Linked DNA regions of Homo sapiens: region 2 is linked to region 1. The links come from fine-mapping of genetic effects on gene expression. Tissue or cell type: whole blood. Region 1 holds a variant in brackets; the other region holds the start of a gene. All regions are shown on one strand. Distances are between the middles of the regions.

What was found. PIP is the estimated chance that this variant, and not a neighbour inherited with it, causes the effect.
Region 2: it holds the start of ORAI3, and the variant in region 1 is fine-mapped to the expression of ORAI3 in whole blood (TOPMed, PIP above 0.99).

The regions. Positions count from the first base shown.
Region 1 is chr16:30,908,427-30,916,285 of GRCh38, forward strand. It overlaps the pseudogene CTF2P. Among named protein-coding and RNA genes, the nearest start is that of FBXL19-AS1, 11 kb to the right of the region's middle. The variant C/T (reference allele first, on the strand shown) is at 3,207.
Region 2 is chr16:30,946,922-30,953,224 of GRCh38, forward strand. ORAI3 (ORAI calcium release-activated calcium modulator 3) reads left to right here and starts at 2,147. Exons shown (of 2, transcript NM_152288.3): 1 at 2,147-2,596; 2 at 6,264-6,303. The coding sequence starts at 2,369. FBXL19 (F-box and leucine rich repeat protein 19) reads left to right here. Exons shown (of 11, transcript NM_001382779.1): 10 at 1-27; 11 at 131-1,862. The coding sequence ends at 309. RefSeq lists silencers at 1,573-1,822, 2,193-2,452, 2,493-2,542 and enhancers at 2,466-2,984, 3,273-3,502, 3,503-4,020, 6,080-6,303.

The sequences.
Region 1 (7,859 bases):
TGGTCCAAGCTGGGCGCAGTGGCTCATGCCTATAATCCCAGCACTTTGGGAGGCCAAGGCGGGTGGACCACAAGGTCAGGAGTTCGAGACCAGCCTGGCCAATATGGTGAAACCCTGTCTCTACTAAAAATACAAAAAAATTAGCCAGGCGTGGTGGCAGGTGCCTGTAATCCCAGCTACTCAGAAGGCTGAGGCAGGAGAATTGCTTGAACCTGGGAGATGGAGGTTGCAGTGAGCCAAGATCAAGCCACTGAACTCCAGCCTTGGTGACGCAGTGAGACTCTGTCTCAAAAAAAAAAAAAAAAAAAAAAAGGCCGGGCACGGTGGTTTATGCCTGTAATCCCAGCACTTTGGGAGGCCGAGGCTGGCAGATCACGAGGTCAGGAGTTCAAGACTGGCCTTGCCCACATGGTGAAACCCCATTTCTACTTAAAAATGCAAAATTAGCTGGGCATGGTAGTGTGTGCCTGTAATCCCAGCTACTCAGGAGGCTGAGGCTGGTGAATCGCTTGAACCCAGGAGGCGGAGGTTGCAGTGAGCTGAGCTCTCGCCATTGCACTCCAGCCTGGGTAATAGAGTGAGACTTCGTCTCAAAAAAAAAAAAAAAAGAAGAAGAAGATCTGGTCCAGTTTATGTTTCTACCAACAGTGTGAGGCTCGGAGAGGAGGAGAATGACCTAAGGTCACCACCCAGGAGAAACAGAGATGAGAGGCAAACCCAGGGCGGCCTCCTTCATCCCCCTTGCCACATTCCTGAGTTCCCAGAGTTCAGTAGCAACTCAGAGAAGCCTGAGAGGGAAGACCATTTCATTCCTTCATTTCACAAACTTCGGGCTTGCAGTGGTTCACACCTGCAATCCCAATATTTTGGGAAGATCGCTTGAGCCCCAAGTTCGAGACCAGCCTGAGCAACACAGGAGATCCCATCTCTAGAAAAAGTTAAAAAAAAAATATGTCAGGTGCAGTGGTTCATGCCTGTAATCTCAGCACTTTGGGAGGCCGAGGCAGGTAGATCACTTGAGGTCAGGGGTTCGAGACCAGCCTGGCCAACATGGTGAAACCCTGTCTCTACTACCAATACAAAAATTAGCCAGCCGTGGTGGTGGGCACCTGTAATCCCAGCTACTCGGGAGTCTGAGGCAGGAGAATCACTTGAACCCAGGAGGCAGAGGTTGCAGTGAGCTGAGATCATGCCACTGCACACCAGCCTGGGCAACAGAGCAAAAACTCCGTCTCAAAAAAAAAAAAGAATTAGCATAACCTGGTGTCGTACACCTGTGGTCCCAGCTATTCAGGAGGCTGAGGCAGGAGGATCACCTGAGCCCTGGAGTTTAAGGCTGCAATGTGCAAAGATTCTGCCACTGCACTCCAGCCTGGGCCACAGAGCAAGACCCTGTTTCAAAAACCAAACAAACCAACAAAAAAAGCCACAGTTGGATCACTGCACCACTTTCTGTCACACTAGCTTTACAATTTTCTTGTTAGTACACATATTATGTGTCTGCAGAATGAAATTTCCATGAGGCCATGGATTTTTGTCTGTTTGTTCACTGCTGTCTCCCCAGATGCTTCCAACAGTACCTAGCACATGATAGGCATTCAATAAATATGTGTTGAATTAATGATGAAGGAAGCCTTGATGTAGGGGGATTTGGAGGTTTTCAGCAGGTGCAAAGAGAGCTGGACACCTGAGTCAGAGAGAGGAGGGGCTCTGCGGGTCCCCCTGTCCTGTGTCTCTGGGGCCTGGCGCTCCTGCCCCTCACTCACCCAGTGAACAGCTCATGCTCTCTCCTCGGCTTCTTCCTCTCTGCAGCCTCTGGGTCTTTCAGGACACCTGTCCTTCTGCCCCTCAGGTGTCTTTATACCTGGGGCTGAGCCCTGGGGTGGCCCAAGAGGGAGGGAGGGAGTCACATCCTGGGGAGAGGGGCAGGAGCAGGCAGGGCCCTGGCAAAGAATGAGAGACAGACCTGGCCACCAGACAGGACAGGGAGCGGGTGGGAGGACCCAGAAGGGGGACATATGTTCCGCACGGGGAGGCCTCGTGTGCAGAAGCCCCAGAGGAAGGAAATGGGTAGGGAAGGGGACACAGATGGGACCCCCAGGCCCCTCCAGCTCCCAAACTCGACCCTAAACCCTGGTGGCTGGGAGGGAGGGGGCGAGGGCGTGATGGGGATTATCCAGGGACAAAGGGGCCGCCCCGCTCCCTGCTGTTCTGCAGGTCCTGGGATCCAGTTTCCCAGAGGAGGCCGCCCCCTGCTCCGCCCCACAGGGACCCAGGCGCTGGGCCCGGGCTCCCAAGGAGTTTGGAAAAAGGACAGGAGGGATGGTGTGTGAGCAACATCATCGTCCACACCCAGGTTCACCCTTAGGCACAGGAACAGTCACACGTCTACACAGGCATTGGCACGTGGGCACACACAGGCATGAGCACACACTTTCATGCGCTCATTCATTCAGGACTTATGGGCCCTGACTGTGCACCAGTCCCTGTTTTAAGTGCTGGGGACAGAGTATGGAACAAGACAGACAAAAATCCGTGCCCTCGTGGAGCTGACACTTTAGTAGACATGGGTACATATATGTGGGATCATGCCAGGCCTACACACATCACACACACAGTCCCAGACACACGCGTGCACACAGGGGAACCCATAGTGCATCCCTGGGGGCCCAGCCAGAGGCACCTACACAGAGCAGACGTGGGACACACACCTCATGCCCATAGATGCACGCAGAGGTGGGGACCAGGGGTCATGGGATCTGGCCACGTCTTAGCCTCTGATACACTAGGAGATCTCCTCCCTCTGCCCAGGCACAACACACTTGGACTTACACACACACACCTAAGACACTGTCCCTCGGGGAAGCCTTGCAGCAGAGGGGCAGGGTCGGAGAGGCAGATGCTGGGTTCTGGTCTTTCTCCAGTACTCCCCCAAACTCTCCATCATGGAACCAATGTTAAGTTCTCATCCCTGCCACCCCCTGAGTCAGGCAGTGATCGGTCAGACTCCCACCCTAGTGGGCTGGAATACTGCTCCACCCTAGCTTCCCTGGTCAGGTGGTAACCTGGAGGCAGAGGGGCCCACACAGTCACTCAAGAGGTGTTTTATTTTTATTTTTATTTTTTATTTTTGCGACGGAGTCTCACTCCGTCGCCCAGGCTGAAGTGCAGTGGCACGATCTCGGCTCACTGCAACCTCTGCCTCA[C/T]CTCCCAGGTTCAAGTGATTCTTCTGCCTCAGCCTCCCGAGTAGCTGGGATTACAGGCAAGTGCCACAACGCCCAGCTAACTTTTATATTTTTAGTACAGACAGGGTTTCGCCATGTTGGTCAGGCTGGTCTCGAACTCCTGACCTTGTGATCCGCCCGCCTCAGCCTCCCAAAGTGCTGGCATTACAGACGTGAGCCACTGTGCCCGGCCAACAGGTGTTTTTTTTTTAAGAGACAGGGTCGGCCCGGCCGGACACAGTGGCTCACGCCTGTAATCCCAGCACTTTGGGAGGCCGAGGCGGGCGGATCACCTAAGGTCGGGAGTTTGAGACCAGCCCGACCAACATGGAGAAACCCCGTCTCTACTAAAAATACAAAATTAGCCGGGCATGATGGCGCATGCCTGTAATCCCAGCTACTTGGGAGGCTGAGGCAGGAGAATTGCTTGAACCTGGGAGGCAGAGGTTGCAGTGAGTCGAGATCACACCATTGCACTCGAGCCTGGGCAACAAGAGCGAAACTCCGTCTCAATAAAAAAGAAAAAAAAAAAGGCTGGGCGCAGTGTCTCACGCCTGTAATCCCAGCACTTTGGGAGGCTGAGGCGGGCGGATCACGAGGTCAGGAGATCGAGACCATCCTGACTAAAAAACAGTGAAACCCCGTCTCTACTAAAAATACAAAAAATTAGCTGGGTGTGGTGGCGGGCACCTGTAGTCCCAGCTACTCAGGAGGCTGAGGCAGGAGAATGGTGTGAACCCAGGAGGTGGAGCTTGCAGTGAGCTGAGATCACGCCACCGCACTCCAGCCTGGGCCACAGAGCAAGAATCCGTCTCAAAAAAAAAAAAAAAAAAAAAAAAAAAGAGACAGGGTCGGCTGGGCGTGGTGGCTCATACCTGTAATCTCAGAAATTTGGGAGGCTGAAGTGGGTGGATCACTTGAGGTCAGGAGTTTGAGACCAGCTTGGCCAACATGGTGAAACCCTGTCTCTACTAAAGATATAAAAATATTAGACAGGTGTGGTGGCACAGGCCTGTAATCCCAGTTACTAGGGAGGCTGAGGCAGGAGAATCACTTGAACCTGGGAGGCGGAGGTTGGAGTGAGCTGAGATCGTGCCACTGCACTCCAGCCTGGGTGACAAAGCAAGACTCCATCTCAAAAAAAACAAAAAAAAAAAAGAGAGAGAGACAGGGTCTTGCTCTGTTCCCTAGGCTGGACTGCAATGGCACCATCATAGCTCACTGTAGACTCCACCTCCCAGGCTCAAGTGATCCTCCCACCTTGGCCTTTCAAAATGTTGGGATTACAGGTGTGAGCCACTGCACCTGACCCCAGTAGCTATTAACACAGCACCTACTGTGTGCCAGCACCAGGGTGAATAATGAGGCAGGTAAGGTCCCTGCCTCACGGGTACACAGTCTGGTCGGGGAGACCAGCACGAAACATGTGAATTAACACACAGCAAGGTTTCCTAAAGTGACATGGTGCTGAGAAGAAGCCCAGACAGGTTGGTGTGATGAGCTGGGTGTTCGGAATACTTAGATAAGGAGCCTGAGGCCCAGAAAGGGGCGGCTACTTACCTGGAGTCACACAGCAGAGTCAGGGCAGATGCTGGACTCCTGTCCCCAGCTTGGGGCTGGCTGTGGGGTTCCAGATCTGAACTGTGAGCTGAAGGAAGGAGGAGGTTGAAGGAAAAGATGGATTCTGAGGTGAGGGGTCCTAAACAGGCTCTCCAAGGCTGGGGGCTGCTAGGGCTGGCCGGCAGGGCCTGTGCCAGGCAGGTGGTGATATCAGGGGATTATAGGAGGCCCATTAAGTGGGTGCACCGAGGCATGGGCCGTGCCATGGTAGTAGAGCAGGGGGAAGAGGAGGTACAGGAGGGGGAGAGTGAGGCAGATACTCGATCTGGTACTATTCACAGGTGGACGGCCTACATGGGGCAGGCCTCACCTGGGAGGGCAGGCTAACCCCACCAGAGCCCACCACCACCCGCCTCTCTCTGGGGCTTCCCTTTCTCTCTCTCTGACCCCCACCCCAGGTGGCTTTTGTTTTTGTTTTTGTTTTTTGAGACGGAGTCTCGCTCTGTTGCCCATGCTGGAGTGCAGTGGCATGGTCTAGGCTCACTGCAACCTCCACCTCCTGGGTTCACACCATTCTCCTGCCTCAGCCTCCCGAGTAGCTGGTACTACAGGTGCCTGCCACCACGCCCGGCTAATTTGTTGTATTTTTAGTAGAGACGGGGTTTCATTGTGTTAGCCAGGATGGTCTCGATCTCCTGACCTCGTGATCCACCCTCCTCGACCTCCCAAATTGCTGGGATTACAGGCGTGAGCCATGGGCCTGTCTTTTTTTTTTTTTTTTTTTTTTTTTGAGATGGAATCTTGCTCTGTCACCCAGGCTAGAGTGCAGTGGTGTGATCTCGGCTCACTGCAACCTCCACCTCCTGGGTTCAAGTGATTCTCCTGCCTCAGCCTCCCAAGTAGCTGGGATTACAGGCACATGCCACCACACCTGGCTAATTCTTATATTTTTAGTAGAGACGGGGTTTCACCATGTTGGCCAGGCTGGTCACAAACTCCTGACCTCAAGTGATCCTCCTGCCTTGGCCTCCCAAAGTACTGGGATTACAGGCGTGAGCCACCACGCCCAGCCCCCTCAAGGTGCTCTTCACATCTGGAGGAATTAGCCGCATCCCAGGCCCAGCTCTGTTGTCCAAGGCATCTGTCTCGGTAGAGGTCAGAGGTCAGCAGCTCTGCCCCCTCTACCCCCATCGTGCCCCACCCTGCAGGCCAGCTCATCTTCTGTTTTGGTTACACCAGAAGCTGAATTCTTGGGAATCCCAGCAATTTAGGAGGCAGTGGGCTTCGGTTCAAGTCCTGCCTTTGTTCATCTTTTTTGTTTGTTTGTTTTGAGACAGTCTCACTCTGTCACCCAGGCTGGAGTGCAGTGATCTTGGCTCACTGCAACCTCTGCCTCCCAGGTTCAAGCAATTCTCGAGCCTCAGCTTCCCAAGTAGCTGGGATTACAGGTGTGTGCCACCAGGCCCGGCTAATTTTTTGTATTTTTAGTAGAGACGGGATTTTGCCATGTTGGTCAAGCTGGTCTTGAACTCCTGGCCTCAAGCAATCTGCCCGCCTTAGCCTCCCAAAGTGCTGGGATTACAGGCATGAGCCACTGCGCCCAGCTCCTGCCTTTGTTTATCACTAGCTTGGACAAGTTCCTTAACCTCTCTGAGCCTCAGTTTGCTCCCTTATCTGGAAACTGGGATAATAATTCCCACTCACAGGTTCTAACTCACAGGGCACACCCACCAAGTGCCCTGACCCCTCCTATGAGGCCTCTCCTGGGCTTGTCAAGGGTTGCCCCAGTAACATATAATGCCGCCAACCAATGGCAAAGACTCAATGTCCCATGAGCCTGTGCCTGGAGCCCAGCCCCATGCCCCGGCTACACATGTGCTCCCAAGAGATCTGGTACCTTTGCTCAAGCATGACCCAGTGTTGTCCAGAAAACCACACAGTGGGGCCCATTCAGAACAGAGGCAAGGGTGCTGGGCGCAGTGTCTCACACCTGTAGTCTTAGCACTTTGGGAGGCTAAGGTGAGGGGATCGCTTGAGGTCAGGAGTTCAAGACCAGCCTGGGCAGCATAGCAAGACTCCTGTCTCTACAAAAAAATACAAAAATTAGCCAGGCAAGGTGGTGTGCACCTGTAGTCCTAGCTACTCGGGAGGCTGAGATGGGAGGATTACTTGAGCCTGGGAGGTCAAGGTTTCAGTGAGCTGTGATCACCCCACTGCACTCCAGCCTGGGTGACAGAGTGAGATCCTGTATTTAAAAAAAAAAAAAAAGGCCGGGAACGGTGGCTCACACCTGTAATCCCAGCACTTTGGGAGGCTGAGGTGGGCAGATCACAAGGTAGGAGTTTGAGACCAGCCTGGCCAACATGATGAAACCCCATCTTGAACCCGGGAGGTGGAGGTTGCAGTGAGCTGAGATTGCGCCACTGCACTCCAGCCTGGGCGACAGAGCAAGACTCTGTCTCAAAAAAGAAAAAAAAATAGTACTTAAGAAAAAGATTAATAACGTTATCATTATTGTTAAAATACCTGTTCATTAGAAAACTTGAAGCAGATCATAAATGAACAAAGAAGAAACCAACAAACCACCCTATTTTACCACCCAGAAATAACTATGACTGTTAACATTTAGTGAGCATCATTCTAGACACCTGATCAGATAAATAGAAAAAGATTTTATGACAATCAATTAATACTAGATATCCTATTTTTAAAATTACATTTAACTTTATTTGAATTTAACAAAAGGAACAGAAATAGAAGTTTAATTGAAAGAACTGTGGAACTTCAGATAAATGTTTCTTCACTATAAATAATATTTCCTGTAAGATTCTTCCAAGTTTAAAAAAAAAGATTTGAAAACCATGAAGGATAAACTCATTATTTATTTATTTATTTAATTTTATTTTTGTGAGACAAGAGTCTCGCTCTGTTGCCCAGGCTGGAGTGTAGTGGCACAATCTTGGCTTAATGCAACTTCCACCTCCCAGGTTCAAGTGATTCTCCTGCCTCAGCCTCCCGAGTAGCTGGGATTACAGGCGCCTGACACCACACCAACTGATTTTTGTATTTTTAGTA
Region 2 (6,303 bases), 38 kb after region 1:
AGACCCTGGTGCACCTCAATCTTGCTGGTAAGCACGGTCCCCCATCCGTCCTGCCAGCCTGTGGATCCCCACGGCCAGTGCCAACCCCTTGCTCACCTGCCTGGTCTCAGCTCCACTGCCCCATCCCCAGGTTGCCACCGCCTAACGGACCACTGCCTCCCGCTGTTCCGCCGCTGCCCTCGTCTACGCCGCCTAGACCTGCGCTCCTGCCGCCAGCTCTCACCCGAAGCTTGTGCCCGGCTGGCAGCTGCCGGGCCCCCTGGCCCCTTCCGCTGCCCTGAGGAGAAGCTGCTTCTCAAGGACAGCTAGTTGGGCGCCCCCCACCCTCCCCCGGACTCGACAGGAGCCTGGACCTCCGGCTTCATTTCACCCCTGCTGGGAGGCCAGGTTCCCACCTCACCACCCTGGGATTCCTGAGTGTCAGTGACTTGGGATTCCCACCCAGGGACTCAAGCCAGCCACCCCCTTCTTTCCCCCCTGCACTGATATCTCTGGGGGTTTCTCCTTCCTATGTCCTGCCCCTGCTACCTGCTTCATTGTCCATCCCCTGGGGGAGTGGGTCAGAGGTACTGGAGGGTGCTGAGCCGAAGGGACGGTGGGAGGGGGGTTATGGTGCAAGTGTTGGGGGGGAGAATGGGGAAAGGACACACACAGGATATGGGAGCCAGGGGCTGGGGGAGGTGGAAGGGGCGGGGGGCGGGGCAGACAGCAGACCACCAAGGGTTCAGGGAACAAAGACCAGTTACTTGGAGTGGGGGGTGGGGGTGGGGCCACAAAAGGAAAACCGGAGGAGCAATTGGGGATCCAGGTGTCAGAGGTAGGGGAACCAGGGGCAAGCTGGGGCTGAGCTGGAGGTGGGGATGAGAGCAGGTGTGGGGACAGCAATACCCCCTTGGGGGTCACCTCTCTGCTTCCCCCCTCCCCAGGCTTCAGTTCCTTCCCCCTGACCCTGACTCCTTGAACGTCACTGAAAACGGCAGCTATTGCAAGGAGTGGGGGCCGCGGGCAGCCGCTCTTCAGCTCGCGGCCCAGGGGAGTGGCGAGGGGCGCCCCAACCCCCTGCCCGCCTCTCCGCACAATACTTGAACATTCATCTGTACTGAAGTGTTACTTGAACCGGGGGAATCTCGGACCTGGGGGAGCCGGGGTGTGAGGGGACTGGACCAGCTTGGACTGAGACCTGAGACCGGGCCGGTGGGCGCCCATTTGGGACTGCGCCACCCCCAGGCTTGTTCTTGTTTTACTGTATTGAGCGGCGGCACCCGCCGGACCCGCATTATGGCTGGGGGCGCCAGCCCAAGAATGGGGACCATGGGACTCCTCCAGCCTGGCTCTTCCCACTCTTTCATCGTCATGGAAACTTGTATCCCATTTGCCCAGGGAACTGCCACTCCTGGTTGCCATGGAAATAGCAGCCAACGGACACCTCCCGATGCCAGTGCTAAGGCTGGAAATGGCCCCCTCTTAGTTGCCATGGGAACCTAGTAACAGACTCTGCTGGCCCTCCTTCCCTGCCCCTTCCTCGAGCGCGGGGTGGGGCTTCGGGACCCCGGGGATGAGCCGGGCCAGGTCCCGCCCCTCCGCGCAGGCCTCCGGGGGGCCGGGGCTTACCATGTAGGGGAGGGGAGATCTATCCACATACCTCAGGTAACAGGGAGGTGCGCGGGTGGGGGGAGGGCTGGGCGGACCAAAGGCCGGAGGGGTGGGGCCTGGGGATAGCGAGAGGCTTGAGAATGGGGCCGCTTGGGGGAGGGAAGAGGCAGCCCGGCGAGGGGCAAGCGGGGGACCCAGCCGGGCTGGGCCCCTGGGCCCCGGGTCTGTACAATACGGTTTGCTATAAAACTCAAAATCTTCCAGCCGGGGCTGCGGAGTTCGTGTGTGTATCTGCGGGGTCCCTACCTACAGATGAGTGGGCTCACCTCTCCTGGACTCATTTTGGGAGGGATTTGGAAGTGTGGACACCTGGGGTGTCCAGCTGTACCTTGGAGGGGGCTGGGGTTGGCGTGCACCTCGGTGGGGTCCGGGCGCTTGGATAACGTTCTTGGTGGGTAGGGGTCGCGGGGAATCTCTGCGGGCCCGGGACTGCGGGGACTTGGTCCCCGGCTCCACCCCATCATGTGGCTAGCCCCGGCTCCGCCTCTGTCCCAGTTCCTGTTTTGGCCTCCGCTGTCCCGCTCCGGCTCCTGGGGCTCCCCGCAGACGCTGCTTTTCTTGCTCCACTGGGGGTGCCTCTTCCTGGGCGCCCGCCGCCTGCATCCTGCTCGTCCTGTCTGGGAATGGGGCCGCCCCCGGGCTTGGGCCGGCCCGGCTGGGGCCCCCGAGGCGCTTCCGCCCCGTAGTGACCGCCTGGTGCCGCCCCCCCCCCAGGATGAAGGGCGGCGAGGGGGACGCGGGCGAGCAGGCCCCGCTGAACCCTGAGGGCGAGAGCCCTGCAGGCTCGGCCACGTACCGGGAGTTCGTGCACCGCGGCTACCTGGACCTCATGGGGGCCAGTCAGCACTCGCTGCGGGCGCTCAGCTGGCGCCGCCTCTACCTCAGCCGGGCCAAGCTCAAAGCTTCCAGCCGCACGTCTGCCTTGCTCTCGGGCTTCGCCATGGTGAGGGGCCGGGAGGGGTCACACCCGGTGGGGCAGAGCAAGTGGGGGGCACAGGTCGGGGGGGGGGCGAAGTAAACAGGTCCCAAGGGAGACAGGTTAAAGGGGGCTTTCGTCAAAGGGGGAAGGAACAAGGTCCCGCGGGACTGAGCAAGTCCCTTCTTACGGATGTGTGTGTACAGGGGACCCCAGGAGACGGGGCCACCGGAGGACACGAAAGTCCTAAAGGTGTCGTAGTGGGAGTGGGGTGAACAAATCGCTGGTGGGGTTGACTGCAACAGTGAGGCAGAGTGGTCCAGATGGAGCCTGTACCTGGCAGAAGTGGTTCCTAAGTCCCAGTGCCAGCTTCAAAGGCAGGTCAGCTGGGTGGGGGCTGCATCAACAGGTGGGGGGCTCGAGATGGATTAGCTGGGTGGAAGGGTCACCCAGCTGAAGGTGGGCCCGTCCCAGGGAAGGTGGCCACTCTCCAGCGGGCCCAAGGGGTGCTAGTGTCAACCAGGAAAACTGACAAGAGATCATGCCCGGGAGGGAACCGCTGGGGAAGGAGGCTGATGAGGAAACTGATAAGCGAGTCTCAAGCTGATAAACCCCAGGTGCAGGAGGACGGTGTTGGCTAACGGTCTGCCCCAGCAGTGGCCTCACAGGAAGTGGGATGGAGGGAGGTCCCAGGGTGAGGATCAGCAGACACAGTCCTGGCTCCTCCCTGCTTGTGGCCAGCTGTGTGACCCTGGACAGGCCTCCACCCCGCTTGCAAGCCAGTGGGAAACTGAGATCATGGAGGGTGCGCCCTCTGTAGCCAGCCAAGTAACCGCCCCAGGGTGAGCCAGGCATGTCAGAGCAGGTCACGTACCAAGGATGGCTCAGACTAGCCTGCTAATTGGACAGGTGTGGAAAGTAAAAGCCTTGCCTCTGGGCAGGAGCGAATGAACTGGGACCCAGGGTTGCTGCTCTGTTAGTCTGGGGTTGCCCCACCATCACCCCAGGAAAAAGGAGAAAGTGAGCTGCAGGAGGTACTTTGGGGAACGCACTCCTGTGGGGGTGGATATCAGAGGCGGTTGGGGTGGGGACCATGGCGCTAGGGGATCTGGGCTAGTCCCTGCCCTGTCTGTGCCACAACCTCCATATTTGAACAATGACAGGGAAACTCTCTAACCCTAAGGGTCATCATAAGCCTATGGTCTTCTATGTGGGGTCCCAGAATCCACAGACCAGCTTACCTTTCATGATGGGGGCATCACCTAGGGACAGGATGTTGGCTCCCCTTCATCTGCACAGCCTGCAGAGGGAAGGGAGCAGCCACCCAAGCTGAGGGAGGTCAACCCCATGGTCCAGCCTGTTCCCAAGGAGACAATCCCTCCACGGCAGAATATGCAGGTGCAGGTTGCTGGGGTGACAGCTTAAGGGCCCGAGCCTTCTCTGCAGGAGGAAGGGGCTGGAGGTTTAGGTTCCGGGGGCAGGACTGGCCGCAGTCCTAGCAGGGGTGACCGAGGCTGGGCCAGGCTCTGGGAGAAACCAGGACTAAGCCTGGCCCAGATCCCTGTCTGTGGAAAACACCTCCTGACACCTGCCATGGCCCAATTTCCCAAAATACTCAGCCCTGTTTTCCTACCTCCACCCGCCAGCCTCTACACCTACCTTCTTCTTTCCCCAGGCCCAGAGCAATCGAATGGACCCTACAAGAACCAGGGATGGGGAGAGAGTGGGCTTCTGAAACTCAGGTGGCCTAAGTTAGAATAGCATTATACAAATTGTATCCAGCTGTCACTAAGCACCAGGCACTGCCCTCAGTGCCTTTATATACATCATCTGTTAGCCTACAAAGTGGGTACTGCTACTCTGGCCATTTTACAGATGAGGAAACTGAGGATCAGAGATGTTAAGACACCTGCCCAAGGTCCCACAGCAAGTAAGTGGCAGGATTTGAGCCTAAGCCGTCTGGTTCCAGACTCCAAATTTATAAATTCCTAGAATAGGGTCATCAACTCAAATGTTTGCAAAGGGCCAGGCAGGTAATATGGATGCCAAATTGGCTGGGTAGGGACTAGCAAGCAAGAGACCCCATGACATTGGGGGTGATGGCTCACACCTTTCATCCCAGCACTTTGGGAGGCCAAGGCAGGAGGATCGCTTGAGCCTAGGAGCCCAGGAGTTCGAGTCCAGCCAGCCTGGGCAACATAGCAAGACCTGGCATCTACCAAAAAAAAAAAAAGAGAGACCCCATGACCTTTCCAAGGGGAGCAGCCATGACTGATTTGAGCTGATAGTTGCCATGCAGGAACGCAGGCCAAGTGTGGCTAGTTCTTCCAAGTTTTCAAGGGGATCTGGAAATAGGGATATAAGAAATCTCTTCAGTTTTACAAGTTGGCAGCATCTTCCATTTTTTAAGAAACACACTGTGTGAGCCAAGCAAAACACGTCTGCAAGCTGGCAGTGGTCCACAGTGTGCCGATTTGTAAACTCTGTCCTCAGACTTTAGCATTCACTATAGCAAGAACAGCAAACACATACCTAGTGCTTACTCTGTGCCTGGCACTGTTCTTTTTCTTTTTCTTCCTTTTCCTTTTCCTTTCCTTTCCTCTTTCTTTTTCTTTCTTTCTTTTCTTTCTTATCTTTCTTTTTTTTTTTTTTTTGAGACAGAGTCCCACACTGTCACCCAGGCTGGAGTGCAGTGGTGCGATCTCGGCTCACTGCAACCTCTGCCTCCTGGGTTCAAGCAATTCTCCTGCCTTAGCCTCCCAAGCTCCTGAGTAGCCGGGATTACAGGCGCACACCACCACGCCCGGCTAATTTTTATATTTTTAGTAGAGACAGGGTTTCACCATGTTGGCCAGGCTGGTCTTGAACTCCTGACCTCAGGTGATCCGCCCAACTCGGCCTCCCAAAGTGTTGGGATGAAAGGCGTGAGCCACCACTCCCAGCCCATTTCATGTATATTTCATTTAATGTTTATACCAACCCTATAAGGCAGGGAGGTGCTGTTATCAATCTCTATTTCCAGATAGGAAATTGAGGCACACAGAGAACTGACTTGCTCAAGATTACACAGCTAGAGCAGAGAATGATCCCAGGCAGCCCAGCTCCAGAATCTGCTGTTTGATCCCTATGCAGTAAACCTGTTAGAAGCATGTCATCCAGCCCTTTTTTTTATTTTTATTTTTAATTTTTTTTTGAGACAGAGTCTTGCTCTGTTGCCCAGGCTGGAGTGCAGTCACATGATCTCGGCTCACTCAAACTTCTGCCTCCTGGGTTCAAGCAGTTCTCCTGCCTCAGCCTCTCAAGTAGCAGGGATTACAGGCATGTGCCACGATGCCCGGCTAATTTTTGTACTTTTAGTAGAGACGGGGTTTCGCCATGTTGGCCAGGTTGGTCTCAAACTCCTGACCTCAGGTGATCCACACACTTTGGCCTCCCAAAGTGCTGGGATTATAGGCATGAACCGCCGCGCCCGGCCATCCAGCCCTCTTGATAGGGAGGTGGGGAAACCAGAACAGAACAGAGCCTTTGCAAAGCTGTCCATTCGTTTACTCAACAGAGACTGAATGTCTCTGGTTTCTGCCAGGCACAGTTCTAGGTCCTAGGGATATGTATCAGTGATGTATCCCGATAGGCGGAAAAAATCTCTACAGTTGAGGTTATGGGGAGATCAGTACATCCCCTCTTGTCCCTGCAGGTGGCCATGGTGGAGGTGCAGCTGGAGAGTGACCACGAGT